Linked DNA regions of Homo sapiens. Changing the gene in region 5 together with the main gene of any one other region gives a genetic interaction. Each region holds a gene or a part of one and is shown on either strand. Other genes may lie near its edges.

Region 1 (4,257 bases), on a different chromosome or scaffold from region 5:
TTCCTTGCTATCCTGGGATATTAAGTATCACTGCAGTAAAAATCACTTAAAATGGAATTAAACAGTGGGGAGAGAATTCATTGGGACTTTACATTGAAAAAGAAATCTTATAATTAAGACAATCTTATCGTGTATTTTTTGGTTATAGGTTTTAATTCAAATGTGTATTAATTAATTGAAAAATAATGACTCAAATATTGATTTTTGACATAATCCCCCAACAAAATAGTATATATTAATATTTTTATGGAACATTATTCTAACATGTTTCCTACTGAGGAATATTTTATTTGAGGGGAAAATTCACTGAAAATCCCATTTTTGTTTTGTTTTTAGACATCTTATCTTGAAAACAAACATTTAGAAAAGATCTACAAAAGCTTCCTTAGTTATACATATGTAACAGCACCAAAAGATATTTTTGCATTCCTGTTGCACAATCATTTCTCAGAGATTTCACAATGAACCGGAAAGAATATATCACATTTTCCAAGGGCTCTCTTAATATCTTTGAAATCAAAAGTTTTTTGAAAAGAATGTTTAAAATATAATGTATGTCATTGTTGTCTATTTCCTCCACTTCAATTTAGCTATTTTAAATGCTTCTGTGCCCTACATAGCCTCACAAATTAAAGGCTTGAGTTATGAGTACTCAGATTATTGAGAACCTCAGAATATTCAAATTAAACGTTTGGATTACAAATATTACATGTTTTCATAACTACATTGGAACAAAAACATAAAATAATGCCTTATTTAGAAAAACACTACTAAAATTCATTCATAATGACCCATGTATTTCATCTAATAGTGTGCAGAAAATATTCCTATTGCTAAAAAAAGTCTGCTATAAATAATTTGAAATGAATTCAAAACTGTAAAACTTCCTAAGGCTGATTTTCTCAATACCACTGTAAACAGGAACAATTTTTTTTTCAAAATCTAATGTGATCAGAAAATGGCAAAATATAACATTAAATCTGCATCAATCTGCATACAAATCTGCTAACACAAATGAAGACACAACGCAGCTTGACATACCCACAGAATCAGGAAGGACACATGTTGGTGGAGAGTCAAGTGAACCTAGAGAGTGATTGATCCTAATCCACATTGTGTAGCCAGATAATAGGAAGATTGGCTGGAAAATGCATTCATAAAAACCATCACTCTGCAAATAGCAATCTTTGGGCTCAGATATGGGATGAATAGATGGAATATCAGAACAGTAAAGGCTGCTCCTTTAAAAGATACAAAAATAGTCAATTAGTATACATTAATAAAAGCAACAAGAAGATATCTGAGAATTCTGATTTGTTGTTTAAAACAGCAGTCCCCAACCTTTTTGGCACCAGGGACCGGTTTCATGGAAGACAATTTTTCCACTAATGGGGGATGGGAGATGGTTCAGGATTTCGGGATGAAACTGTTCCACTTCAGATCACCAGGCATTAGATTCTCATGAGGAGCGCATGCCCAGTTCACAATAGGGTTCTGCTCCTCTAAGAATCTAATGCTGCGCTGATCTGACAGGAGGTGGAGCGCAGGTGGTAATGCTGCTCTCTCACCTCCCGCTTTGTGGCCGGGTTCCTAAGAGGCCACAGACAGGTACCGGTCCGTGGCCCAGGGACTGGGGACCCCAAGTTTAAAAGACAGGCAGAAGGCCCGGTGCGGTGGCTCATGCCTGTAATCCCAGCACTTTGGGAGGCTGAGGCGGGCTGATCACTTGAGCCCAGGAGTTCCAGACCAGCCTGGGCAACATGGGGAAACCCTGTCTCTACAAATGCACATCTGTAGTCCTGGCTACTAGGGAGGCTGAGGCAGGAGAATCGCTTGAACTGGGGAGGCGGAGGTTGCAGTGAACGGAGATGGTACCACTGCACTGCAGCCTGGGCGACAGAGGGAGACTGTCTCAAAAACAAAATAAAATTAAATTAAATTAAATTAAAATAAATAAAATACAGACAATTTCACTCCATCTAAAAAAAGACATTCTTATTAGAAAGGCATTTTTTAATTTTTCCCAATTCTATATCTTTCCACAGAAACTGACAGTAACTCTTATTAAATATTTCATTAGACACTAAGCAGGGATGCAAATGAAATAAATACTCTAAAAAGAAGAAAATGATCCAGTTAGAGACAGAACCTACAATAATTTGAAAATTAAACAAACATTATGTATTAGTGATAGAATATTTAAAATATAGATGAAAGTAGTCATGGAGCATTCCTGAGATGGCAAGGAAGGCAAATTCCTCACACTTTGAAGAAAGAATTAAATTTCACCACAAATGAGTGGTGAATATAATTTTCTAGTTCAAATTAATATAAGTTAATATAATACCAATTTCAGATATGTATGTGAATTATATAACCATGTATATTCCTCATTTTCTCAGAAAAGAAAATTTAAAAAAAATTTTATAAGTGAGTCCTAGCCAACACTCCACCTCAGAACCCATAAAGCAGGGGTGTCCAATCTTTTGGCTTCCCTAGGCCACACTGGAAGAAGAACTGTCTTGGGCCACACATAAAATATACTAACGATAGCTGATGAATCAAAAAAAAAAAAAAAAACCAGTTGCAAAAAAAATCTCCTAATGTTTTCAGACAGTTTATAAATTTGTGTTGGGCTGCATTCAAAGCTATCCTAGTCCACATGGGGGCCCCAGGCCATGGGTTGGACAAACTTGACATAAAGTCTTTTTCCTCTTCTTTGAAATAACCTCTTGGGCCAATGTTTGCTCTGAATACTATATTTAAATAGCTGAAGTAGCAATTACTCTTTCCAAAGAGATGGGAGTGAGGAAGTTAGAAGAAGCTAAAAAATCTATATTCTTCTGTCATTTTCTATTTTCTATACCACTTCTTTTTCTTGTCTTCTCAAAATTACAATCATGAATGTGTGTGTGTGTGTGTGTGTGAATAAATGGTGGTGCGTGGGCAAAAATGAAAATGAGGAGTGAGGGGTCATCTGGGGGTAGAAAATAAGAACAAAGTAGAAGCACAGTACTAGTACACTTGAAATCGAAAAGTTGGCATCATTATCATGACAGCAAAAACCATATATTGAATATTTACAAGGAGAAATTATACCATGTGATTATAATTAGATGAAATATGTCATTAACTCTCGCAGAAACACTGTAAGTCCTATTATTCTCTCTGTTTTACAGACAAGGAAATTGAGGCTTAGGGAAGTTAAGAAACTCACCCAAGTAAATGTAGTTTCATAGTTATTCTGTAAATGTTAATAAGAGAAACAAGGCATGGGGCTTAACATAATAGTTTTCCATAAACACCTTTTCTAATGTGAAAATGCCATGAAAAGAATGTAAAGACAGATTATAAAAGTAAAATTTCATATCATGAACAATTCTACTGATTTTAAAATACTCATATTAGGTAGGATGAAGGCAGCTATTTGAGAAATGTACGAATTGCCACATTTTTTTCCTAACGCTACATAAGAAGAGACTGGCAGCATTAGGAATAGACTTCAGATCACAGTATTTGAGAGAAGGGATTTATTTTTCTAGTTGAAAATTTATATTTTAAGAATAAATGAGCATGTTATACAAATTGAAAGTCTCCACTACAAATAAAAATATAAATTGGGACACAGTGTTTAACAGCAGTATATATTTACTTGACTACTACTATGGGATATTTTTAAAAATAAAAATCTATTATATAATCAAGGGTTGTATCATTTTAGATAAAATGATTTTAGAAAGAAAGGGACCACTATAAGACGATGCCTTGAATTCTTTTTAAAACATAGAAGAGTAAAAATAAACAAGCACAAATTACTTCTCATTAGAACACATTACCCTTTATTAACCATAAGTATTTATTTCCTAAGTAATCTCACTCAGTTCTAAAAACCATTCATATTATCTCTTATAATCTGTTTTTACCTCTTTTTTCCAAAACATTAATCTTTAGCCAAATGATACGAAACTTTTATAATCTTTCACATTCTCCTCTAGTCAACTAAGTCAAATTAAAATATATATAAACTACATTTTCTTGCATTTCATTCAAGAGTTAAAATACAAATTTTTCAGAATTGATTGATTTTCAGAAAAGATAATTTGAAGTAAAAACAAATTACAATTTTTTAATCTCAGGTGTGAATATTTTTCAAGAATCACCAATTTATATAATCCCTCAAAAATTTCCTGATTCATTATATTATACTTTCCTCTTTCAGGAAGCAAATAATCTGTAAGACTACTGTTGTAATATTTC
Region 2 (4,257 bases), on a different chromosome or scaffold from region 5:
AAAAAGTGACAAAGCAGACAGGCAAACATAATTCATTGGTGTACTATATAATTTTAAGCTTCCACCCCCAAATAGCTATTTGAAATTCATTTTGTATCACAAGCACTTCTTCTGAATATTATTTAGGGCAAAATAGCCAACTTGATAAAGTGCCAACAAATCACATCAAAAATGTAGAATGTTAACTAGATCAAAGTGTCAAGAAGAAATATTATTACCATATCTACTTCAAAAAGTAAAACTTCTACACAGGTTCAAAAGTTCAAAGCAACCATATTTATTTTCAAACAACACGCTTTAAATAGTAGAAATTAAAGTTATAAAACTACCTGGTCAGGATTCTTGTAGTTCAGAAGAAGATTTGAGGCCTTGATATCTCCATGCACATACTCATGCTCGTGAATATATTCCAGAATATCCAGCTATGAAAGTATCATACAGAATAAGTTAATGCAGTACCTAACACCAGCCAGCAGAGGACCAAGCTTCAACATAAACTAGCCTTTACTGTACTCAAAACAATTTTTTAAAAACAAGAAGAACATAGCTCACATACAATTCTTAAGCTTAGCTGCAAGACAGTTTTCCGAGAAAACCTTTTGGCATTTGCTTCATATATTTTCTGAAGGTCACTCCCAAAGCGATCCATTATCATAAACCTGTAACTGAAGACAAATATGAAAAGCCAATGAACAAAATACAATGCAAGAAAACCAACTTTGTAATGAGTACTCTCAAAGTAATTTTTTCAAGACAATGTTTAGTAAAGAAGTATTCTTTAAAAAAGAAATACAAACATTTGAAACAATTTCTCCCAACTAGAAATCTCAAAGAGTTCAGAGTGCTTTCAGGTCCTGCTTTTTACCTGGAGGGCCTCTTCCTGGTCGCAGCTAGTTTCAAGAGACTATTCAATTTAAGATAATGCTCACAGAGAGAACCCAACAAGTTTATTCACGGTAAAAATAAAACAAGCTGAATAAAAATGACAGCATTGATTTTTCTCATAGTTAAAATTAATTCATGTTTCTGGATATCAGCTTCCTTCCTGTGACTGTTTCTCCTTATTTTTAAGGTATATTTCAGCAGTAACAACATTCTGCTAAAATCAAGATTCTCGTGAGATGCTTTAACAAAAGCCAGATTCAATACCATTGTTTAAATGGCGTAAAAGGATTGTACATTAAACACTCAATGGCCAAGATTTGGGGAAAAACAAATATCCTGAAAAAACATGAAGATAACTGGCTTTGCATAAAGCAGCTATGTCACCTTGGCTGAGTCACATTACTTCCTGGGCCTCAATTTCCACAGAAGTAAAATGAGAGAGCAGGGACTCACCCTTTCTAAGGTCACTTTCAACACCCAAAACTCAGATTCAATAATCACGTTATATTTCAGTATGTACAGAAAAGCATCACCTATTTGCAATAACACTGCTTAGCTTCTGCTCTGAGGACCACTTTTATCTTCAATAGTTTTCCAGATTCTAACTTGTCTGGTGAAATCATTCAGTAAATCAATAAAAATCAAAACCACACTCAGAATGTATCAGGACATCTCCAATGAGGAAGATTATGAATCATCAACACCATAACATCTAGCATTTACTGAACACCTGGTATGCACACAGCACTACTGTAAGTACTTAAAACGTTATTAATGCATTTAAACCTCACATCACTCTATAAAGTAGGTAACTCCTATCATACCCATTTTACAGCAGAAGAAAACTGATAATTTGTCCTCTAGTATGTGGCAAAATCATGCTTTTAACCCCTGTACTACATATTAACTGAAATAAATGTCAGTAGGATACAAAAATCCCATTTATATGTTATAGGCTTCTATGATAACAATATGACAAGTTCAATAGGGAAGGAAGAGTTGACTAACATTAAAAGACAAGATGTTGAACAAGTAACTCAGAATTCTATTCATTTTTGAACTGGAAGAAAATTAGAAAATCATCTTGTCTAAACATCTTTTAATAAATAAAATAACTAAGGTCTTTGGAGGTAAAGTGATTTGTCCAAGGTTATAAAATTAGTCAGTGGTGGCCGGGCCTGGTAGTTCACGCCAGTAATCTCAGCACTTTGGGAGGCCAAGGCTGGTGGATCACCTGAGGTCAGCAGTTCGAGACCAGCCTGGCCAACATGGTGAAACCCCGTCTCTACTAAAAACACAAAAATTAGCCGGGCACGGTGGCAGGAACCTGTAATTCCAGCAACTCGGGAGGCTAAGGCAGGAGAATTGCTTGAACCTGGGAGGCGGAGATTGCAGTGAGCCAAGATTGAGCCACTGCACTCCAGCTGCACGACAAGAGCAAACTCCACCTCAATTAAAAAAAAAAAAAAATTTGTGACAAAATATATTCATTCATGTAAGATTTCCTAGCACCTTGGCTTGTAAGATAATAAAGTGAAAATGGTAACTTTGACTTCCTGGTTTCCTTTGTGTAACAGATTTTGCAAGGTTGAGAGATGAGACCAGGGCACATATACATGTTGGCTTTTACTAAATAGGTGATGTGTGTAATGATTATAACATAGGATGAGCATCTCAAATCTGAAAATCTGAAATCAGAAGTGCTCCAAAATTAGAAAGTGTTTTTAGTGCCAACAAGATGTTCAAAGGAAATGCTCACTGGAGCATTTTGGATTTCCCATTTTCAGATTTGGGATGCTCAACCAGTAGGTATTAACGCAAATATTCCAAAATCCTTAAGAAATCCCAAATCTAAAATACTTCTGGTGCCAACATTTCAGATAAGGCATACTTAACCTGTAATACACAGGTAACAAAAATACAACCTCTGTAACAGCCTGAAAGGTGGCTAAAACACAACTGCTTAATTCAACATGGGGTCTATTAATAAATTCTGTTACATAGGTCTTTGTTTTTATTCACAAATCACCCTACCACTACTCTTAATAAGACCTTAATCTTGTCACCATACCTAAATCATAAACATCAACTGAAACATGATTCCACAAATTTCACAGAAACCATTACCACATTCTTCTGGAAAGACGGCTCTACCATTGAGTAGTAAAATGAAAGCTATTTCTAAGTAACTCCTCTAAAGTAAAACCTTTGATGTATACTTTTCTGGAGACTTGGATAAAATGTGCAAGTAAAAGAAAAATATAAATCAGTGTAAAATAATTTAATAATGGTAGCAGCTAACATTGCTCTAAGCCCTACATACATATTAATTCAAATGAGTTACAAGGAAAACTAAGCATGTCTGGCATGGAAGGGGGCTGGAAGAATAATCTACTTTCTATTTCTTTACTTTCTAAGACCTATAATGATTCTTTTTAAGAGCTTCAACCTAAAAAGTAAATCAATGCCTGATATATGACTAATGCCATCTTTTTAAAGGAGACATTTCTAGCAACCTCATTTTATAGAAGAAATGGGCTGGGAGGTAAAGTCATCACTAGTAAGTGGTGAGTTAAGACTTAGACTGTGTTCTCATTTGTCACCACACTCTAAGGCACTTCTGATCCACACCAGGGAAGTTCTTTCCAGCAGTGCCCAAGTCAGTCAGCTTACAGAGTCAACCTTGGACCCACTTAGTCCCTGGTCACCTCACAGGAGTCACACAAACAAAAGCCCTGTTTAACTGGTTCTGAACTTTATCATAAAATGGGTGATAAGAATGTATATGGTAAAATGTGATATGACAGTGTGGGCTACTTTTAAAAAGACCATCATTCTCAAGCAACATACCACCACTGACAAACAAAAATCATAGACAAACAAATGAAACCAATTATGATAATCACAGTGATGATGACTGCAAGAAACATTTCCTCAGCACTTACTCTGTGCCCCTTACAATTTACATGTTTTCAATTCATCTTCACAGTAATTCATAAAGTAAGCACTATTATCCTCATCTCACACATAGGGAAACAAGAGAGACAGAAAGTTAACTAGCCCATGACCACACCTGATGGAGTCAAGTACAATCAATCTAGTGCTAGATTTGTTTGGTGTTTAGGTTTTGCTGCAATATACCGTGCTTGGTTTTTTTTTTTTAAGACGTTTATACTCAAATTATGGAAAGAGGAAAAGGCTGTTATTCCAAGTCTAAAAATGCTCTAGCCCCAGGTACACTTTTCTTCCAATCATCTCTATGAAATGTGGTTTTCATAATGTACTGTTCCTTAGGAATATAACTATTGTATACTGGAGCACACAGTCAAACAGATTTGCTTCCTAGCAAGTCATCACTAAGGGTTTTTCTTG
Region 3 (4,257 bases), on a different chromosome or scaffold from region 5:
GGGCAGGTGGGGCTCTGGGTGCCCTACCCCTACTTCAGCCGCAGCAACTCAGCTTTCACCTGTCATGGGACTGGACTTTTGTGTAAGATTTCTTTTAAAGGATTCTTGGTTAGGCACAGTGGCTCATGCCTGTAGTCCCAGCACTTTGGGAGGCTGAGGTGGGACTGCTTGAGTCCAGGAGTGCAAGACCAGCTTGGGCAGCAAAGGGAGGCCCCCATCTCTACAAAAAATACAAAAATTAGCCAAGGCGTGGTGGCATGTGCCTGCAGTCCCAGCTACTACTTGGGAGGCTGAGGCAGGTGGATGAATCGATCCTGGGAGGTTGAGGCTGCAGTGAACCATAATTGCACCACTGCACTCTAGCATGGGTGACAGGGGGATAGTCTGTCTCAACAAATAAAAAATAAAACCGCCAGGCATGGTGGCTCACACCTATAATCCTAGTACTTTGGGAGGCCGAGGTGGACAGATCATTTGAGGTCAGGAGTTCGAGACCAGCCTGGCCAACATGGTGAAACCATGTCTCTACTAAAAATTAGCCGGGCGTGGTGGTAGGCGCCTGTAGTCCCAGGTACTCGGGAGGCTGAAGCAGGACAATCGCTTGAATCTGGGAGGAGGAGGTTGCAGTGAGCCGAGATTGCGCCACTGCACTCCAGTCTGGGTGACAGAGTGAGACTCCTTCTCAAAAAATAAATAAATAAATAAATAAATAAATAAATAAATAAATAAACGTAAAAAAAGGATTCCTTAAACCACCATTTTACAGTCTCACCTCAACAATTCCAAGCATTGTTTTCCTACTGTCAATGCCTCTGGTTATAAAACACTATCTTCCTCTAGGCTACCTCTTGTAGCCTGACAAGAAAAAGTGTTGAGATAACAGATCTAACTTTCTTTTAGTATTATGTTGACACTACCATGTTTTCAAATTACACTGACTCTAATGATCACGATCAATAAAGAGCTATTAGGTGTCTGTCTTTCCTCCAGCTCTGCTCTACAGAATGCAAACTCAAGTGCTAAAGAGAAGAGATGCCAGTTACCTTTTTGGCTTCTGCTAAAGCACTCAGTTTTGGTCTTGGTGGTGGTGACTCATCATAAAAGAGAACATCATCTCCTTCCAAGACACCTCGCCCCAGCTTGGGCGTCATTGTGGCCGGGGCTCCCTCCAGCCTGGGGAACTCGGATCCTGTCCGTGGAGGCTGAGCAGGGGGCTGTCTTGATGAAGATGGCACAGCTGGGCTCTCAACTTCACTTGAGCTCTGCAGAAATCTTTAAAGAACATACAGTCAAAATACGCAAACAGGGTTTACGAAAATAAAAACTCTAGAACTCAAAGTGGACTGGGAGGCGGCAGGCAGGCCACCAGTTGGGAGCTAGTTGTTAGCAAAATAATGTCCCCTTCTAGGCTGGTAATTCAAATTTGCACACGATAAGAACAATACTAGCTTTACTAACTCCTCCTTAATTGAGTTTTCTTTGAATAAGCTGTAATTGTCCTAACACTTTAGAACTGATAACTGTTTTTATCAATTGGCTGTCCAGTGGATGTCATCCACAAGGAACACAGCTGAAGACGCGGTGTGAACTGTATTCCCACCCCTACCGTCAGCTCTAGGGCCTGTAGGAACTCATTGCACCTCCCTGCATCTTTGTTTATGCTACTGGGAAGAGACAATACATGTGAGACATTTGGAAGTCATTAATGAAAAACACTGTAACTTGCAGCGATTATTTTACATCCCCTTTCTTTTTTTTGATTTTTTTGAGACAGAGTCTCGCTGTGTCACCCAGGCTGGAGTGCAGTGGCATGATCTTGGCTCACTGCAACCTCTGCCTCCCAGGTTCAAGTGATTCTCGTGCCTCAGCCTCCCAAGTGTTGGGATTATAGGCGTGAGCTATCATGCCTGGCAAAAAATAGTTTTAAGAGCTATTTTACTTTTGTTTTTGGAGACAGGGTCTTGCTTTGTCACCCAGACTAGAGTGCGTTGGCACGATTGCGGCTCGCTGCCACCTCTGCCTCCCAGGCTCAGGTGATCCTCCCACCTCAGCCTCCCGAGTAGCTGGGTCCACAGTGTGCACCACCATGCCCAGCTAATCTTTGTACTGTTTGTAGAGACAGGATTTCGCCATTTTGCTCAGGTTGGTCTCAAACTCCTGGGCTCAGGCGATCTGCCTGCCTCGGCCTCCCAAAGTGCTAGGATTACAGACATAAGCCACCAAGCCAGCCTCATAAGAGATATTTAAAAACAAATAACAAACCCCAGAAATCATCTAGTCCAAACTTCTCATTTGATCGATGAAGAAACTGAGGCCTAGGATCACATTACTCACAAGGGCCAGACTCAGGATTAGAGCCAGGCCATCCCAGAGCAGTACTCTTCCCAACCGCACAGCCACTCTTGCAAGCTCTAGGCTGTGTTTGCAAACTGCCTATCAAATCCTACGCAAAGATAAGGTTTCCTTGGCCAACAAAATTCTGAAAATTTTCATTACGCAATGCCTTCAAGCTGATGGGCATTCTCTATTTCCCACGAGGCCCCCAACTCCATACATATTTCTGTGTCCACGTATATAATTTATGTCATCTGTAGGCTCAAGATGAATAGCTCTATAGATATCCCACCGGCACTTCAAACTAATCTGCCTGAGACCAAACCCATTCTCTTACTTTCCCAAAGAATTTCCTCTTGTCTTATCATTGACTCCCTTTCATGGATGTGGTTGCCTTTCAGCAGCCCAGATTCGGGATGGCAAAAGGTTCAGCACCAGAGCACAACATGTGTGAGCCCAAAACTCGGCCCCACCATAAACTAGCTCTCTGATCTCCAGGCACACTATTAGTAAAACAAGGCTGAGAAGCCTCCGGAGGCTCAGATACTGTGTTTATGGAGTACGTATGAAGTGCCTGTGAACCGCAGCTCTCATTAGTATTCAGGTGACCTGAGTTCAGGAATCATTCATTTGTCCACCTACCCTATGCATTTCCACTTGATTTTTTTTTTTTTTAATTATTGGCTGAAGCCAAGTAACACATTTCCACTTGCTTTTGCCTCTAAAATGACTCTCCATTTTTAGTGCTTCAGTTTTGTCCTTTATCCAAAGAACTGTATTCTACTCACTGGCTCTGCCTGTCATAAAAAACTGAATTGCGGCAAAACCCAGAAATGGCAGCCAGGCAAATCCAGGCTTGCGTCCAGGAATTTGAGACCAGCTTGGGCAATATGGCAAAACCCAGTCTCTATAAAAAAATACAAAAATTAGCCAAGCATAGTGGCACATGCCTGTAGTCCCAACTACTTGGGAGGCCAAGGCAGGAGGATCATTTGAGCCTGGGACATGGAGGTTGCAGTGAGCCGACACTGCAGCATTGCACTTCAGCTGGGGTGACAGAGTGAAAACCCGTCTCAGAAAAAAAAAAGAGAGAGAGAGAGAAAATGACAGCCAGCATGTGAACCTACGCTCTCCCCCTTCACAAAAACCCTCTTTACATACACTTCACTCCTTTCCCTTTTCCATGGTGATAACGACTCTAACCTGTACCATTTGGTGTTGGGAGTCACCAGTGTAAGAAATAATACAGCCTTAAATGCTATTCAGGTTATGGGAAAACTATTTTAAACTTTCAGAGTTAAAACGCAGCCAACCGAAACCTGAAGTCACATTCTGGAAATCGATGAAGACGTTCTGAGGACGCCTGAGATGGATGACCCAAGCGGGGAATATTAAATCTGCTCCTCTTACCGCTTCTGTATTTCTTCTGATTTCCTTCTCCTCATCTCCAACATCCGCTGCTTCTGTTGCTTCAAGAGTGCTGAGGCCGAGATGGACTTGATGGCTGGTTTTGGGCTCCCCATAATCCCTGAAACAGAAGCCCAGACTGAGGGGGTGCCCTGGGAGGCTGAGGGAACACAGGGACACACGTGTGGCCATGCAGCTGATGGTACCTGAAGCTGTGGCTTTGGCTAAATGTTGTTTTAAGTTCCTGGCTCCACACGTCGGCAGGTCCATCAGTTCCTTGAACTCCTCAGAGCAAGACAGGCTCTTCTGGGGTATTCCTGTGCCAGGTCAACACCAGCTTTAGAGGATTCACATTCAGATGGTTTGAGGTCATATGACATACCACTTTCTAAACTCTGCACTTGTAATTTTAGTCATACGTAAACGAAGAAGACGGAATCCCAAGAGGAAAGAAAAGAATCCTTAACCTCTATCATCAGACTCATAGGATGGCAGGGTATCTCGACTATATTTTAT
Region 4 (4,257 bases), on a different chromosome or scaffold from region 5:
TCAGCTTCAGGAGGTATATGGGTACTTCCATCGCAAAATGGCTCCATCGGCACTTACACTAACAATATATTGATTTCCTGGACTTATGCGGATGCGTGTGATGTTGCCACTGTGTCCCACCCCAACGTGAGTCACTTCACCCTCATTATAATCCCAAACTTTGACCAGATGGTCATTTCCACCTGAAAAAGATAAACACGTATATGGCATTGCTGCAATAGGAGAGAGAGAAACAGCCCTGATTTCAAATAACTGGATCATTTTCAACATGGTCCCCATGTATCTGTCTTTATAATAACACTTTTACTTGATTATAAAAATCTATCTGTTGCAGTAAATTTGAAGAGGAGGGGGAAATACAAAGAGGTAAAATCACATTTCATCCCACTACCCAGAAATAACCACTAGTAATATCTTGGCTTAGTTCCTTCCAGTCTTTTCTCTATAAGTATACTGGTATACATATACATCATATATATGATTGGGATCACACTGTGTCTAGTTTGATACCTGCTTTGTAGTCAATGTACTTGTGAAACTTAATTCATTTCATGCATTTATTTATTTTTTACTTATTTATTTATTGAGACGGACTGTCTGTCACTCAGGCTGGAGTGGAGTGGCATGATCTCAGCTCACTGCAGCCTCCGCCTCCCAGGCTCAAGCAATTCTCCTGTCTCAGCCTCCCAAGTAGCTGGGATTATAGGCGTGCACCACCACGCCCGGCTAATTTTTGTGTTTTTAGTAGACACAGGGTTTCACCATGTTGGCCAGGCTGGTCTCAAACTCCTGACCCCAGGTGATCCACCTGCCTTGGCCTCCCAAAGTGCTAGGATTACAGGCATGAGCCACCACGCCTGGCCGCATTTATTTGTTAATATCCTGATGAATCAAAGAGCTTGGCAGGAAATGATAATGATGTTCCAATCGGCATGTTGTGTGGTAAATGCCCCTTTGAAATATTGGTTAATTCATTTGTTTTGGTGGGAAGGGCATCGCATCATGCAATAATAAAGTGGAATTAAAAGACTGGCTTTTAAGACTTTAGAAGTATGCTGGACAGCCCAGGCCATTTAAAGGCCCCATTTCTATTATCAATGCCCACCAAAAATAGCAAGCCTAGCAATCTAAGTCTTGGCTTTTATTTGTGCTCTTAAGGCTCTTGTGCAAATGTTTCCTCTCATTGAAATGTGACTTCTGGATTTTTCTTTCTCAGCCACATTGGCTGCAGTATTGGTTGGAATCTGATTCTAACCAAGTTGCCTTGAGACCCTTTTGTTGTCTTTTCCAATTGCCTCTAGCCTGGGAGTTCCTTCCATGTCCTCGTCTAAATAAGCCAGGCTTGGCTTTTTCCTATCCCAGGACTAACCTGTGACAAAGTGCACCCCTTCCTGTGTGATATCCATGCCATTTATCGACCCAGACAGGGAACCTTCCAATTCTCTGATTACTGTCCCATCAAATACTTCCCAGTAAGCAATCTGGAATTCAGGAAAGAAGCATTAAGCAGGACTCAGCTCAGGAGAGTCATCCATGCACATGCTAACAAAAGATGGCTCTACTTTATATAGAAGGGAGCAAAAATACACCACGGGATGATACTGGCTGAAATTATAAATAGGCTACAGCAGGGGGTGGCAAAACCATTTTAATATTTTTAGTATTGGTTTTAAATTTGCATTCTATTTAAAGACATGTTGATGTGCTGATAAACCTGGATTAAGACAGAAAGGGCTTTTGATAAGACTAAGAAGATTCAGCCTGAAGCAAGCTGTAAAAGAAAGAACAGCCTCTGCATCCACAGCTAAGCTTCAGGCCTGGAGGGAGGAAAAGCATTTTCTTCCTTCTCACTGGGGGATGAGCACTCCCCACTCCCCAGAGTTCTAGAGACTGGGCTGTACAGGCACCCTCCCACTGGGACTGCGCCCTCCCTCTTCCTCACACCACCCTTATTCCCAACTTTCCCTTCTGCTCCAAAGCACTGAAATATTCCACAGGGTAGAGTTTAAAGAGGAACTGGTAACCTTGGTTCCCTGTTGGGGAGCAGAACTACCTTAGGGATGGAGAGACAGGTGCCTAAAGGAGGGTGATTTTTTTCCTGAATATACTGCCTTTGTACCTTAAACTTTGTGAATGCACAATCTATTCAAGATTTAAATTTCCTTCTTAGGAAAGAATGCTTCTGTTTATGATAGCAAAGACAGGGAATCAACCTAAATGCCCATCAATGATAGACTGCATAAAGAAAATGCGATACGGCCAGCTGGGTGCAGCGGCTCACACCTATAATCCCAGCACTTTGGGAAGCCGAGTTGGGCCCGTTGCTTGAGGTCAGGAATGCGAGACCAGCCTGGGCAATATGGTGAAACCCTGTCTGTACTAAAAATACAAAAATTAGCTGGATGTGGTGGCACACACCTGTAGTGCCAGCTACTTGGGAGGGTGAGGCATGAGAATCACTTGTACCCAGGAGGTGAAAGTTGTAGGAGGTTGCAGTGAGCTGAGATTATGCCACTGCACTCCAGCCTGGGTGACAAAGTGAGACTCTGTCTCCAAAAAAAACAGAATAAACTTAAGAAAATGTGGCAGATATATACCACGGAATACTATGCAGCCATGAAAAGGAACAAGATCATGTCCTTTGCCGGGACATGGATGGAGTTGGGAGCCATTATCCTCAGCAAACTAACGCAGGAACAGAAAACCAAACACCACATGTTCTCACTTACAAGTGGAAGCTGAAGGATGAAAAGAGATGGACACGTGGGGAAACAACACACTCTGGGGCACCTGTCGGGGGGTGGTGGGTGGGGGGAGGAAGAGCATCAGGAAGAATAGCTAATGCATGCAGGGCTTAATACCGAGGTGATGGGATGATCCGTACAGCAAACCACCACGGCACATGTTTACCTATGGAACAAACCTGCACATCCTGCACATGTACCCCTGAACTTAAAGTTGAAAAAAAAAAAAAAAAAAAGAGTGCTTGACCAGGAATCAGGAGTGCAAACCTGCACGTGCATTTCATTTGTTTCTCATTGTTTCATGTCGGAAACGTGCTGTGTTCCAGTCACTCTGCCAGGAGTCTGTATTCCTCTGAATCTAGCTAGACATTATGCATACTATTTCTTGTTAATTTTTTTCTTTTGCTTTGTAATGTCTGTTGATGCTTGATCATGTTAACAAAAAAGTTCTGATTTCATAGTAAACGCCTAAAGAGATAGAAAACCATGCCAGAACCCATGTTTCTCAGGATTCACACCCACAGAAGTAGTTGGAACTTGACTGCCTGCCTTCCCAGCCAAAGAAGCCAAATTGACACTCTCCTGGGCAGCCCCAGTAGGGCTCCATCTTACTGGAGTGTCCTCTGCCAGAGATGCCCTTCCTTGAGGTCTAGGCATTGACTGAGTCCTTCTGTCATTCAGGCCTCACTCAGATGCTGCTCCTTAAGGAGGCCTTCACCCACCACCCCAGCTGAAGGAGCTTTCCCCCGCCCGCCAGTATCATGTCACCAGTTCTATCTCCTTTCTCAGTCCTTTCACCATCTCATCTCTTGTTCACTTGTTATTCATTGTCCATTCATGGATTGGTTCATGTGTGTATTAGCCAATTCCATCCCCTCCTACCCAAAATAAATTAGGGAAGTAAGGTTCATGAGAGCAGGGACCCCTTGCTTGCTCCAAGGGTGAACATTCCCCCAAACAGAAGGATGAACCTTCACCTTCCTCTTTAGCTGGGAAATCTGTACCATATGTAGAATTTTTTTTTTTTTTTAAGAGAGAGTCTTGCTCTGTCACCCAGACTGGAGTGCAGTGGTGCAATCTTGGCTCGCCGCAACCTCCACTTCCCAGGTTCAAGCAATTCTCATGCCTCAGCCTCTTGAGTAGCTGAGATTACAGGCACCCGCTACCACACCCTACTAATTTTTTGTATTTTTTGTAGAGATGGGGTTTCACCATGTTGGCTAGGCTGGTCTCGAACTCCTGACCTCAGGTGATCCACCCGCCTCAGCCTCACAAAGTGCTGGAATTACAGGCATCAGCCACCACGCTTGGCTCCGTGTGTAGATTTTTAATGTATTGATGAAGTACAGTGCTGAGAGATGAGGAGCTCTATTGCCTTTCTGTCTGAATTTAGTCAAAGTGATAACCGGTTTGGGCACAGCAATTCTACTCCAGTCTCAGAAATTCCCTAATAATAAAAACCAATCTATTGAGTACCTACTATGTGCCAGACCCCCTGCTATAAGCACCATGA
Region 5 (4,257 bases):
AAATATGGAAGAGCTAGATGTGATTCAAGAGCAAAACAAGAGGAATTATGATTTTACCCAGATGATTTCAGAAACAGAGATTTTAAGTAATTATAAAGATAATATACAGATGTGGTCATTACATAATATAGTTCCCGAAATAGATAATGCTACAAAAAAGCCAATCAAAGGAAACACCAAGATATCTGTGGCAAATAATCAAAATAGCAGTCAGAAGCCATTTGACCAAATTGCTGAAGCAGCCTTTAATGCTATTTTTGATGGTTCTACTCAGAAATGTAGCGGACAGTTAAGCCAAGAACTGCCAGAGGCTTTTTGGAGCACCAGTAATACTACCTTTGTAAAGACAAATGCTTTGAAAGAGGAGAAAATCATTACTAATGAAACTCTGGTCATTGAAAAACTGTCAAATAAAACCCCACGATCACTTTCTTCTCAAGTAGATACACCCATAATGACAAAATCATGTGTGACTTCCTGTACTAAGGAGCCAGAAACTTCTAATAAGTACATTGATGCATTTACTACAAGTGATTTTGAGGATGATTGGGAAAACTTACTAGGTAGTGAACCTTTTGCTATGCAAAATATCGACATGCCTGAACTCTTTCCTTCTAAAACAGCCCATGTTACTGATCAAAAGGAAATTTGTACCTTTAATAGTAAAACTGTTAAAAATACGTCAAGAGCAAATACAAGTCCAGATGCCAGGTTAGGAGATTCAAAAGTATTACAAGATCTTTCTTCAAAGACATATGACAGAGAATTAATAGATGCAGAATATAGATTTTCACCAAATTCAAATAAATCAAACAAATTATCCACTGGAAATAAAATGAAATTTGAGAACTCTTCCAATAAAATTGTTATTCAAGACGAAATTCAAAATTGTATAGTTACATCTAATCTGACAAAAATAAAGGAAGATATTCTTACTAACTCTACTGAAGCTTCTGAAAGGAAGTCAGCTTTGAACACAAGGTATTCTAATGAACAGAAAAATAAGTGCATTTTAAATCAGTCTATTAAAGCCCCTGTTAATACTGATCTTTTTGGCTCTGCAAATCTAGGCAGTAAAACCAGTGTTAGTAACCCAAATCAGACTAGTGCATCAAAAGTAGGTTCTTTCTTTGATGATTGGAATGATCCCTCATTTGCCAATGAAATTATTAAAGCATGTCATCAATTAGATAATACCTGGGAAGCAGATGATGTAGATGATGATTTGTTGTACCAAGCATGTGATGATATTGAAAGACTAACTCAGCAACAAGACATTAGAAAGGACAGTAAGACATCAGAAAGTATATGTGAGATCAATAATAATTCCGAACATGGAGCCAAACTAACTCAGCAACAAGACATTAGAAAGGACAGTAAGACATCAGAAAGTATATGTGAGATCAATAATAATTCCGAACATGGAGCCAAAAACATGTTTGCTATATCTAAACAAGGAAGTAATTTGGTACAATCAAAGCATTTGAATCCAGGCAGCATTTCAGTGCAGACATCTTTGACAAATAGCTCACAAATAGATAAGCCAATGAAGATGGAGAAAGGGGAAATGTATGGAAATTCTCCAAGATTTTTAGGTGCCACAAATTTGACTATGTATTCTAAGATCTCAAACTGTCAGATAAATAATCTGCATGTGTCTTATACTAACACTGATGTTCCAATACAAGTGAATAGTTCCAAATTGGTTCTTCCAGGAAGTTCAAGTTTGAATGTAACTTCAGATCATATGAATACAGAAATTACTACTTATAAGAAGAAATTGAGTACTAATCAGCCATGCCATAAGACTGTAACAGATGAAGCTCAGAGCAACCTTAACACAACAGTTGGATTTTCAAAGTTTACATTTACAAGGATGAAAAATTCTCAGATTCTTTCTCAGTTTAATCAAAATTGTATAACTGGAAGTATGTCTGATACCAAAATTACACAGGGTGTGGAGAAAAAGAAAGGTGTCAACCCATTACTGGAGGAAGCTGTTGGACAGCAATCTTTGGTGAAACTTTCTGAATCTTTGAAACAATCTTCAAAAGGTATGTATGAAATATGAAATAGTTTTCTTTGAAAAGCATCTTAAAAAGTAGTAAAATAATTATTTGTTGTTTTTGAGTGTGAGTAATGTATAAGGTAAAACTATTCTATGACTAGTTAATTTTAAGAATTAACTAGAATTCTTAAAATGATACTTGGAAATAATTATACGGCATTATACAGAGTAGTTGGTTTATTTTTCAAAATATTACATTGAATTCTTTCCCAGCACTTAATACAATGACTGGCATATAGTAGGTACTCAGTAAATATTTTTTGAATAACTTATTCTTTCTTGGAAAATCATACCTTTAGATATATGTATTATAGTGTTCATTAAGATTGTATTTACTAAATTGTTTTAAAACTTGAGTAATCTGGGAAGCAGATGATGAAGCAGTGAGGTAAATAATATTTAGAAATTTAGAGCATTCTAATTAAACGTCTTTACTAGTGTGATATTTGATATAAACGTGCTAGCGGTGATGGTTAAAATTATGATTTACTTATTTGATAACAGCTATCATTTCTGATTCTTCCAATTTCTCTTTTCCCCAAGTCTCCATTCTATCAATAAGTTTCATTCTTTCAAAAACCGTATCCCCAGACTCCATTTTTCTTTCTACAACAAGTTAACATTTCTTGATGAGACTACTGCAGTTCTTTTATCTATCTCCTTTCAATTCTTATCTCCAAACAGTGGAATAGCCTTTTAAAATTGGATGGGCAAAAATGGCGTTTCTATGCTTAAAACAACCTTCAATGGCTGCCCGTCATATTTCAAATAAAATCCAAACTGTATACTGTGACCAACAAAGCTGTGGATTATCTCTCTTTAACCTGCGTCTCCTCTTTTTTCCTTACCTACTAAGCTTCAGCTATACCAGCTATCTTTTAGTTTTTCAAACAGTGTATGTTTTTCTTCCTTGTCCAGGAACTTAGACCGTGCTCTTCCCTTTGACTAAAACTACTTCTTTTCAACATGTGACCCCTTCCCCACTCTTTTGTTGGTGCTTTCTTACATCTCAGTATAAGTACTACTTTCTCACAGAGGCCTTCCTTGAAGAGTCTATAAATAGATCTCCTTGTTTATTTTTTATTTCCTAATTGCTTTCATCACAAGTTGAAATTAAATATTTAGTGACTCTTCTCTGTCTTGTTGGCATTACTGTTCCAACTTTCCTATCTAAGTGACTTTTTTTAAAAATTTACAATAGTAATATGCTAGTTATTTAAAAAGAAAAGTAAAACAGTATAGAATAATTTAAAGGAAAAAGTTAAGTCTTCTGTTTCTCCTTTCTGATAACCATCCCTTACGGAAAACCACTATTAATAGTTGGTATGATGTAGCATTTTCTATGAATATAAAAAGATATGTGTGTGTGTATGTACGTATATATGTGTATGCATATATATATACCTATAGATCTATTTAAATATTAATAAATCTGTATACCCACTATTTGGCAACTTGCTTTTGCCTTAATATATTATAGCTGTCTTTTCCTATTAGTACATATAAATTTATTTTAGTCCTGTTAATGACTATGTGATATATATGGTGGATGTATCATAATTTAACTGTTTCTCTGTGATGGAAGTTTGGGTTGGTTGCAGTCTTTTGCAATTACAAACAATACTCCAGTAAATATCCTTCTGCATAAATTTCCGCATGCTTGTATAATTGTATCTGTTAATTCCTAAAAAATTGCTACAAGAGGAAGTTTTAAAATTTGATGGATACCACCAAATTTCTATCCGAAGCAGTTATACCAATTTATCTTATCAAAACTTACAGTAAATAATTCTCTACACCCAAGGGTGTCCAATCTTTTGGCTTCCCTGGGCCACATTGGAAGAATTATCTTGGATCACACATAAGATACACTGACACTAACAACAGCTGATGAACTAAAAAAAAAAAAAAAAAAAATCACAAAAGAATCTCATAATGTTGTAAAAAAGTTTATGAATTTGTGTTGGGCTGCATTCAAAGCCATCCTGGGCTGCGGGTAGCTTGCGGGCTGCGGGTTGGACAAGCTTGCTTTACATGATAGCCCAAACTAGATATTTTGAAATATTAAAAATTGTTCTCAATCTATAATAATTTTAAGTATTTAAATTTGTATTAAAGTGAGCATATTGTAACTAAATCAAGCATGTTCCTAGCATGACTTTATTTACAGATAGAGTTGACCCTTGAAC
Region 6 (4,257 bases), on a different chromosome or scaffold from region 5:
GAACATACGCTCTTACCACTAATTCTAGCCAGTGCAATAAACAAGAAAAAAAAAAAAGAAGAAGAGGGAGAAGGAAGGAGAAAGAAGGAGGAAGGAGAAAGAAGGAGGAAGGAGGGAGGAAGAGGAGGAAGAGGAAGAAGAAGAAGAAGAAATAATAATAAAAGGCACAGAGGTTAGAAACTGTCCCCATGGTTGTCTACACAGAAAATCCCAATGAATCTACACACACACACACTTCTAGAAATAATAAGTGAATTCAGTAAGGTCACAGAACTGGATAAAAATACAAACACTGACTATGTTTCTATATGCCAGCAACGAACATTAGAAATCAAGATTAAAAATACCACACCATAGATAGCTCTTATTATTTTGAAATACATCCCATCAATACCTAATTTATTGAGAGTTTTTAGCATGAAGGGTTGTTGAATTTTGTCAAAGGCTTTTTCTGCATCTATTGAGATAATCATGTGGTTTTTGTCTTTGGCTCTGTTTATATGCTGGATTACATTTATTGATTTGCGTATATTGAACCAGCCTTGCATCCCAGGGATGAAGCCCACTTGATCATGGTGGGTAAGCTTTTTGATGTGCTGCTGGATTCGGTTTGCCAGTATTTTATTGAGGATTTTTGCATCAATGTTCATCAAGGATATTGGTCTAAAATTCTCTTTTTTGGTTGTGTCTCTGCCCGGCTTTGGTATCAGAATGATGCTGGCCTCATAAAATCAGTTAGGGAGGATTCCCTCTTTTTCTATTGATTGGAATAGTTTCAGAAGGAATGGTACCAGTTCCTCCTTGTACCTCTGGTAGAATTCGGCTGTGAATCCATCTGGTCCTGGACTCTTTTTGGTTGGTAAACTATTGATTATTGCCACAATTTCAGAGCCTGTTATTGGTCTATTCAGAGATTCAACTTCTTCCTGGTTTAGTCTTGGGAGAGTGTATGTGTCGAGGAATTTATCCATTTCTTCTAGATTTTCTAGTTTATTTGCGTAGAGGTGTTTGTAGTATTCTCTGATGGTAGTTTGTATTTCTGTGGGATCGGTGGTGATATCCCCTTTATCATTTTTTATTGTGTCTATTTGATTCTTCTCTCTTTTTTTATTAGTCTTGCTAGCGGTCTATCAATTTTGTTGATCCTTTCAAAAAACCAGCTCCTGGATTCATTGATTTTTTGAAGGGTTTTTTGTGTCTCTATTTCCTTCAGTTCTGCTCTGATTTTAGTTATTTCTTGCCTTCTGCTAGCTTTTGAATGTGTTTGCTCTTGCTTTTCTAGTTCTTTTAATTGTGATGTTAGGGTGTCAATTTTGGATCTTTCCTGCTTTCTCTTGTAGGCATTTAGTGCTATAAATTTCCCTCTACACACTGCTTTGAATGCGTCCCAGAGATTCTGGTATGTGGTGTCTTTGTTCTCGTTGGTTTCAAAGAACATCTTTATTTCTGCCTTCATTTCGTTATGTACCCAGTAGTCATTCAGGAGCAGGTTGTTCAGTTTCCATGTAGTTGAGCGGCTTTGAGTGAGATTTTTAATCCTGAGTTCTAGTTTGATTGCACTGTGGTCTGAGAGATAGTTTGAAAACTGGCACAAGACAGGGATGCCCTCTCTCACCGCTCCTATTCAACATAGTGTTGGAAGTTCTGGCCAGGGCAATCAGGCAGGAGAAGGAAATAAAGGGTATTCAATTAGGAAAAGAGGAAGTCAAATTGTCCCTGTTTGCAGACGACATGATTGTTTATCTAGAAAACCCCATCGTCTCAGCCCAAAATCTCCTTAAGCTGATAAGCAACTTCAGCAAAGTCTCAGGATACAAAATCAATGTACAAAAATCACAAGCATTCTTATACACCAACAACAGACAAACAGAGAGCCAAATCATGGGTGAACTCCCATTCACAATTGCTTCAAAGAGAATAAAATACCTAGGAATCCAACTTACAAGGGATGTGAAGGACCTCTTCAAGGAGAACTACAAACCACTGCTCAAGGAAATAAAAGAGGACACAAACAAATGGAAGAACATTCCATGCTCATGGGTAGGAAGAATCAATATCGTGAAAATGGCCATACTGCCCAAGGTAATTTACAGATTCAATGCCATCCCCATCAAGCTACCAATGACTTTCTTCACAGAATTGGAAAAAACTACCTTAAAGTTCATATGGAACCAAAAAAGAGCCCGCATCGCCAAGTCAATCCTAAGCCAAAAGAACAAAGCTGGAGGCATCACACTACCTGACTTCAAACTATACTACAAGGCTACAGTAACCAAAACAGCATGCTACTGGTACCAAAACAGAGATATAGATCAATGGAACAGAACAGAGCCCTCAGAAATAATGCCGCATATCTACAACTATCTGATCTTTGACAAACCTGAGAAAAACAAGCAATGGGGAAAGGATTCCCTATTTAATAAATGGTGCTGGGAAAACTGGCTAGCCATATGTAGAAAGCTGAAACTGGATCCCTTCCTTACACCTTATACAAAAATCAATTCAAGATGGATTAAAGATTTAAACGTTAGACCTAAAACCATAAAAACCCTAGAAGAAAACCTAGGCATTACCATTCAGGACACAGGCGTGGGCAAGGACTTCATGTCCAAAACACCAAAAGCAATGGCAACAAAAGCCAAAATTGACAAATGGGATCTAATGAAACTAAAGAGCTTCTGCACAGCAAAAGAAACTACCATCAGAGTGAACAGGCAACCTACAACATGGGAGAAAATTTTCGCAACCTACTCATCTGACAAAGGGCTAATATCCAGAATCTACAATGAACTCAAACAAATTTACAAGAAAAAAACAAACAACCCCATCAAAAAGTGGGTGAAGGATATGAACAGACACTTCTCAAAAGAAGACATTTATGCAGCCAAAAAACACATGAAGAAATGCTCATCATCACTGGCCATCAGAGAAATGCAAATCAAAACCACTATGAGATATCATCTCACACCAGTTAGAATGGCTATCATTAAAAAGTCAGGAAACAACAGGTGCTGGAGAGGATGTGGAGAAATAGGAACACTTTTACACTGTTGGTGGGACTGTAAACTAGTTCAACCATTGTGGAAGTCAGTGTGGCGATTCCTCAGGGATCTAGAACTAGAAATACCATTTGACCCAGCCATCCCATTACTGGGTATATACCCAAAGGACTATAAATCATGCTGCTATAAAGACACATGCACACGTATGTTTATTGCGGCACTATTCACAATAGCAAAGACTTGGAACCAACCCAAATGTCCAACAATGATAGACTGGATTAAGAAAATGTGGCACATATACACCATGGAATACTATGCAGCCATAAAAAATGATGAGTTCATATCCTTTGTAGGGACATGGATGAAATTGGAAACCATCATTCTCAGTAAACTATCGCAAGAACAAAAAACCAAACACCGCATATTCTCACTCATAGGTGGGAATTGAACAATGAGATCACATGGACACAGGAAGGGGAATATCACACTCTGGGGACTGTGGTGGGGTCGGGGGAGGGGGGAGGGATAGCATTGGGAGATATACCTAATGCTAGATGACACATTAGTGGGTGCAGCGCACCAGCATGGCACATGTATACATATGTAACTAACCTGCACAATGTGCACATGTACCCTAAAACTTAGAGTATAATAAAAAAAAAAAAAAAAAAAATACCACACCAATTGCATTGCTTGAAAAGAAAACCACTTACATATAAATCTAATAAATCTGAGCCAATATAAGTTTGCTGTGAAGAGCAAACGAGTAATAAATGTGTAAATTGTTAGTAAAATGTAAAATATTAAACAAATTGTAAGGCATTCTTATCTGTGGCTTTCTTATCTAAAGAACAGGCCTCCTTTAGTCTGCTACACATGAATTTCCTAGATGGATATTCAACAATGCCACTCAGAACAGTCTCCTAGGCTTTCCCTATAAATTAACTCAAATGTAAATATTAAGTTATTACCCAAAATGTATTACCCAAATTGATATTGACAAGTTATAATTTCTCTTTACTCTTTTTGAATACCAAGAATTACACTCGAGTCAGGCATAATGTGAAGGAGATCTATCTGCTCTGAGCAAAAATTAGAACTCTATTTATAAAAATGACATGACTAAGAATCCTAACCTTGGTGTCTAAGTTATCTCCAAATTAGGATGATGGGTAATAGAGAATTCGTATCTTAAAATATTTTTTCTTTTAATAAGTATTTAATAATTGTGCTAAGTTTGTTTTCTACTTAAGGT
Region 7 (4,257 bases), on a different chromosome or scaffold from region 5:
GGTACGCAGGAGGCTGAGGAAGGAGAATCGCTTGAACCCAGGAGGCGGAGGCTGCAGTGAGCCAAGATTGCACCACTAAACTCCAGCCTGGGTGACGAGTGAGACTCTGTCTCAAAAACATATATATATAGAGAGAGAGTACATATTTTGGGGGGTACCTTGTAAGATTTTCATGCTTGTATATCTAAATGGTTCATGAATCTCATGTCCTCATTCCAATCCCATGAACACGGACACAGTTTGGTCTAGGCACTAGTTTCTCTTTTTTTTTTTCTGAGATGGAGTCTTGCTCTGTCACCCAGGCTAGAGTGCAGTGGCACGATCTTGACTCACTACAACCTTTGCCTCCCTGGTTCAAGTAATTCTCCTGCCTCAGCCTCCCAAGTAGCTGAGATTACAGGCGCCCGCCACCATACTCGGCTAATTTTTTGTATTTAGTAGACATGGGGTTTCGCCACGTTGGCCAGGCTGGTCTCGAACTCCTGACCTCATGATCCACCCGCCTCGGCCTCCCAACGTGTTGGGATTACAGGCATGAGCCACCGCGCCTGGCTGGCAATAGTTTTTCTTGAACCCTTTCCAACAATCTCCTAACTGCCTCTACCTTTGCTTTTCTCAAGCCCCCAAACCAGGCTCCACATGGTGGCCATATGATATATCTAAAGCTCTGACATGCCCATGTCACCACTCTGCTTAACACCCTCCAAAGGCTTCCTCATGATGCAGTCCAGGCCTGTGAGATGAACCATCTAGAAGACTCTAGCATCAGATCCCTGTTGACCTGTCCACAGCCTTAACTACCCTCCATCACCTGTTCACTCCTTTTGCTCTGACCACGGTGAGCCTCTCATTCATCCTGAAAGTGCCATGTGCTTACAAAACTCTGTACCCCTGAGCACTCCAGGAAGGGGAGGAGAGGCCTGAGCACTTACCCTTCACAGTCCCTCCTCAGTTACACCTGCCCCAAGTTCTTCCTTCCTGCTCTGCAATCCTCTGAGCGCCCCACCATTGGGACGTAAATTCCTGCCTCCCAGTCACTTGCTCTTCCACAGTAGGGATTACAGTAGCAGGGGCACCTACCAGTTACTGAACCCTGACCACACACTGGGTACTGTGCTGACACTTTATAAGCATATTACTGAACGCTCAAATACAACCATCCTACCTTGACCATTTCAGAGATGCAAAAACTGAGGCCCAGTGAGGCTAAATGAATTTCACAAGGAAATCAGTTTGTGAATGGAAGAGACAGGATTGATCTCAAGTCATACCCTTAGGGCCTATTACCTATACTTCATGTTTTTTGGCCCTTGGATTCAGCACAAGAGTTGCAACATTCACCAAAACACAAGACAAGATCCCTGCATATGGATCACCCTTCAAATCCTCTATCAGGAGCGTGGAGGAGAGACTAGCTCTGGCTAGTGTGATGTCAGAAAGCCTATGTGTGCCAACCTGCAGAAGGGGTTGTGATAATTAGAAGAACAGCTGGGTTAACAGGCAAAGAATTAAAGAGTGCTGGTGTAGAGGGCTGCTTCTTGCTATGTGAATACCTGTGGGAACAAGGCCCAGGTCATGTTCTGGGAATGGTGTGGAGCATACTGAGGGCCGTGCTGCATCCAGCTCCCTGTCCAGGGCCAGCTGCCTACCTGTATGATCTCCTTGAGCTCTTCCATAGCCTTCTCCTCCAGCTCCCTGATCTGAGTCATGGCTTCGTTAAAGCTGGACATCTGGGAAGACAGTTCCTCCTCTTCCTTGGATAACTGAGAGGGCCAAAAAGAAAGACAATTATGTGACCCAGGTGCCGCCTCAGCAGGCCACACTTCTGTCTTGCTTGGCCGCATCCTGGTCCTTACATTGCCTGGAATCAGCGCCCCGTTAGAGCAGGCTTCCATCTCTTCTGTTTCCATTTGAATCAACTGCTCTCCACTGGGCCCACTGTGGGGGCTCAGCTCCTTGACCCTGAGGAAACAAGGAGGTCTCAGATCCCACAGCACCCCCTTGGTACTCACCAGAGGAATGTGGCACCGCCCAGGCTTCGAGGCTTGAGGCTCCAAGGGGATGGAATGGCAACCTTGCCTTCAGCCAAGGAGAGAGAAAACTAAAGCTGGACTGGAAAAGCCCCTCACCCAGCTGACTCTCCAGCAGGGCCCGGAGAGGATTGGGACAGACCTAGCATCACGGCGGAACTCCCAAGCCTCAGGTTCAGAGTCACAGAGGAGTATACAGTAGGCCCTGAGGCCCCAGAGCCTCCTCCCCTCTCATCACTGCCCTTCCCTTGCCCAGTCCTGTTCCGCATCCCACCTAGCTGTAGGTACTAGTACCTGTCTGCATATCTCAGGGTGTTTAAAGTATATTCACAGGAGCTTATGCCTGGTGAGATCGTGGCAATCTGCAAAAGAGGGGTGGGTGATTAAAGGCTGAGAGGCACGGTGAGGATGCTATATAGCCTGTCCCTGAGGGGCCTCCAGTCAGGGTGTTTCTTCAAGCTTTGGAGACCCACATGGTATTGGTGGGAGGAGTCATTTAGCACCGCGCTGTGCTAGGCCACTTGCCCCATGGGCACTGCAAATTAAGGTGCCTCAGACATTGGTTTCCTGCTTTCAAAGACACATCTAATTATCTTTTGCTTCATTATTCCTTCACTGAGACAGTCTTGCTACCAAGGTCCTATCTTTTTCTTTTTTCTTTTTTTTTTTTGAGACGGAGTCTCACTCTGTCGCCCAGACCAGAGTGCAGTGGTGCGATCTCAGCTCACTGCAAGCTCTGCCTCCCAGGTTCACGCCATTCTCCTGCCTTAGCCTCCCGAGTAGCTGGGACTACAGGCACCTGCCACCACACCTGGCTAATTTTTTTTATTTTTTAATAGAGATGGGGTTTCACCATGTTAGCCAGGATGGTCTCTATCTCCTGACCTTGTGATCCACCTGCCTCTCGGCCTCCCAAAGTGCTGGGATTACAGGCGTGAGCCACCGCGCCCAGCCCAAGGTCCTATCTTAAAGCTCTGTGGCTTCTGCTGGAAACTTCAGTTCCCTTAGGCCAAAGGATAATGCCTTAGGTAGAGCTTAGTCAGAAAATCCCACCTTCCTCATGAAAGGACTCCTACCCAAAGGGTAGGGGAGAATATTCTCTTGAGGGGAAGGATGGCAGATCTCACATACAGGGGCTTGGGGATAAAACAGGAAAGAGGACGTCATTCAAGGACACAGCCTTATGATCCAGGCTATTTCTATTTTCTAGGCTGGGAGCCAGTGAACCTGAGGGAGGCCATGGAAAAGACAAGGACTTCCCTCTCCTGCTGACCCAAAGGCCCATCTTCCGAATTCTGGAACCCCCTTTTCATCAGGTAATGCAGGAATGACCTCTCCCAAACCAAGAGCTGCACCTACACATCTTAAAGGGAATAGATCCTTTCCTCCACGCTTGGTTAGGCCACAAGGAGTCTCGTGCATTAAAGCAGGGTCTGGAAGCCCAGTCACGGTACAGCCTGGAAACCCAGGCAGCCAGCAGTGCTGAGCTTCCAGCCCAGGGACAGGACTAAGTGTCTCTGTGGAAAGCAACTCTGTCTCCTCCTGTACCATCACCTTCAAAGTGACCCTACTCACCATGCAAGTCCTAGAGTTCTCCCCAATGAAGGAGTCCCTCAGCACCTGTGTCAGCTTGCTCTCACGGAACGGGGTGTGAGCCTTGTTCTGTCCCAGGGCCCTGATGCACTCCTGTGGGGGCAGCAGGAACAACTGAGGTCCCTTCTTTCCTTGCACTGATCCCTCCCCATCCCTTCCCAGTAGCTCTCCCGGCCAACCAGCTCTAGCTGCCCCACTACCTTCAGGGCTAAGAGACTCTTGTTGATTTCTGCGCCCTCCATGCGGGTCTGCCGGTCAGCACTGGAAGTGTCCGCGCCTCGCTCATTCCCTGCCAGATCTACCAAAGAGAACTTGCCATGCATTCTCCCTTTAGCTCGAAGAATAATTTGGAAGCACGCGTGGGAGCGGGAGGAATTGGAGTTGGCAAATGTCTGCCCAGAGGTTCTGTGGTAAAGAAAGGTTATGAGATTCTGTGGTCACCAGCCCCCATGGCACCCAAGTCCACAGAAGTTCTCTAGGAAGGGAGGGACACAGGTTAGGAGGCGAAAAAGTCCTGTTTTCCTGTCCCAGGCTTCCATCTTGCCCTCCCTGGGTAGCAATTCTCCCTCCAGCTCTGGACCTAATACATTTTCCTGGCAGCCAAATTAGTACTGGATTCTGGACTAGGGCCTTT

What was found.
Region 1: changes in ETAA1 (region 5) and LEPR are lethal when combined (synthetic lethality), as found in Homo sapiens cells (one large-scale study listed by BioGRID).
Region 2: changes in ETAA1 (region 5) and VRK1 are lethal when combined (synthetic lethality), as found in Homo sapiens cells (one large-scale study listed by BioGRID).
Region 3: changes in ETAA1 (region 5) and MCM10 are lethal when combined (synthetic lethality), as found in Homo sapiens cells (one large-scale study listed by BioGRID).
Region 4: changes in ETAA1 (region 5) and CFAP52 are lethal when combined (synthetic lethality), as found in Homo sapiens cells (one large-scale study listed by BioGRID).
Region 6: changes in ETAA1 (region 5) and SLAIN2 are lethal when combined (synthetic lethality), as found in Homo sapiens cells (one large-scale study listed by BioGRID).
Region 7: changes in ETAA1 (region 5) and KIF2C are lethal when combined (synthetic lethality), as found in Homo sapiens cells (one large-scale study listed by BioGRID).

Annotation. Positions count from the first base shown.
Region 1 is NC_000001.11:65,602,022-65,606,278, reverse strand, and holds part of LEPR (leptin receptor isoform 1 precursor), read right to left. Parts: intron 1,242-4,257; coding exon 1,042-1,241; intron 1-1,041. UniProt on the Homo sapiens protein: Receptor for hormone LEP/leptin. On ligand binding, mediates LEP central and peripheral effects through the activation of different signaling pathways such as JAK2/STAT3 and MAPK cascade/FOS.
Region 2 is NC_000014.9:96,849,239-96,853,495, reverse strand, and holds part of VRK1 (serine/threonine-protein kinase VRK1), read right to left. Parts: intron 666-4,257; coding exon 557-665; intron 423-556; coding exon 330-422; intron 1-329. UniProt on the Homo sapiens protein: Serine/threonine kinase involved in the regulation of key cellular processes including the cell cycle, nuclear condensation, transcription regulation, and DNA damage response.
Region 3 is NC_000010.11:13,192,056-13,196,312, reverse strand, and holds part of MCM10 (protein MCM10 homolog), read right to left. Parts: intron 4,059-4,257; coding exon 3,948-4,058; intron 3,863-3,947; coding exon 3,745-3,862; intron 1,273-3,744; coding exon 1,044-1,272; intron 1-1,043. UniProt on the Homo sapiens protein: Acts as a replication initiation factor that brings together the MCM2-7 helicase and the DNA polymerase alpha/primase complex in order to initiate DNA replication. Additionally, plays a role in preventing DNA damage during replication.
Region 4 is NC_000017.11:9,638,948-9,643,204, reverse strand, and holds part of CFAP52 (cilia- and flagella-associated protein 52), read right to left. Parts: intron 1,482-4,257; coding exon 1,370-1,481; intron 183-1,369; coding exon 7-182; 3' UTR 1-6. UniProt on the Homo sapiens protein: Microtubule inner protein (MIP) part of the dynein-decorated doublet microtubules (DMTs) in cilia axoneme. Important for proper ciliary and flagellar beating. May act in cooperation with CFAP45 and axonemal dynein subunit DNAH11.
Region 5 is NC_000002.12:67,403,282-67,407,538, forward strand, and holds part of ETAA1 (ewing's tumor-associated antigen 1), read left to right. Parts: coding exon 1-2,054; intron 2,055-4,257. UniProt on the Homo sapiens protein: Replication stress response protein that accumulates at DNA damage sites and promotes replication fork progression and integrity.
Region 6 is NC_000004.12:48,413,969-48,418,225, reverse strand, and holds part of SLAIN2 (SLAIN motif-containing protein 2), read right to left. Parts: intron 1-4,257.
Region 7 is NC_000001.11:44,760,051-44,764,307, reverse strand, and holds part of KIF2C (kinesin-like protein KIF2C), read right to left. Parts: intron 4,029-4,257; coding exon 3,824-4,028; intron 3,717-3,823; coding exon 3,606-3,716; intron 2,393-3,605; coding exon 2,325-2,392; intron 2,274-2,324; exon of another isoform or gene 2,201-2,273; intron 1,963-2,200; coding exon 1,857-1,962; intron 1,764-1,856; coding exon 1,650-1,763; intron 1-1,649. UniProt on the Homo sapiens protein: In complex with KIF18B, constitutes the major microtubule plus-end depolymerizing activity in mitotic cells. Regulates the turnover of microtubules at the kinetochore and functions in chromosome segregation during mitosis.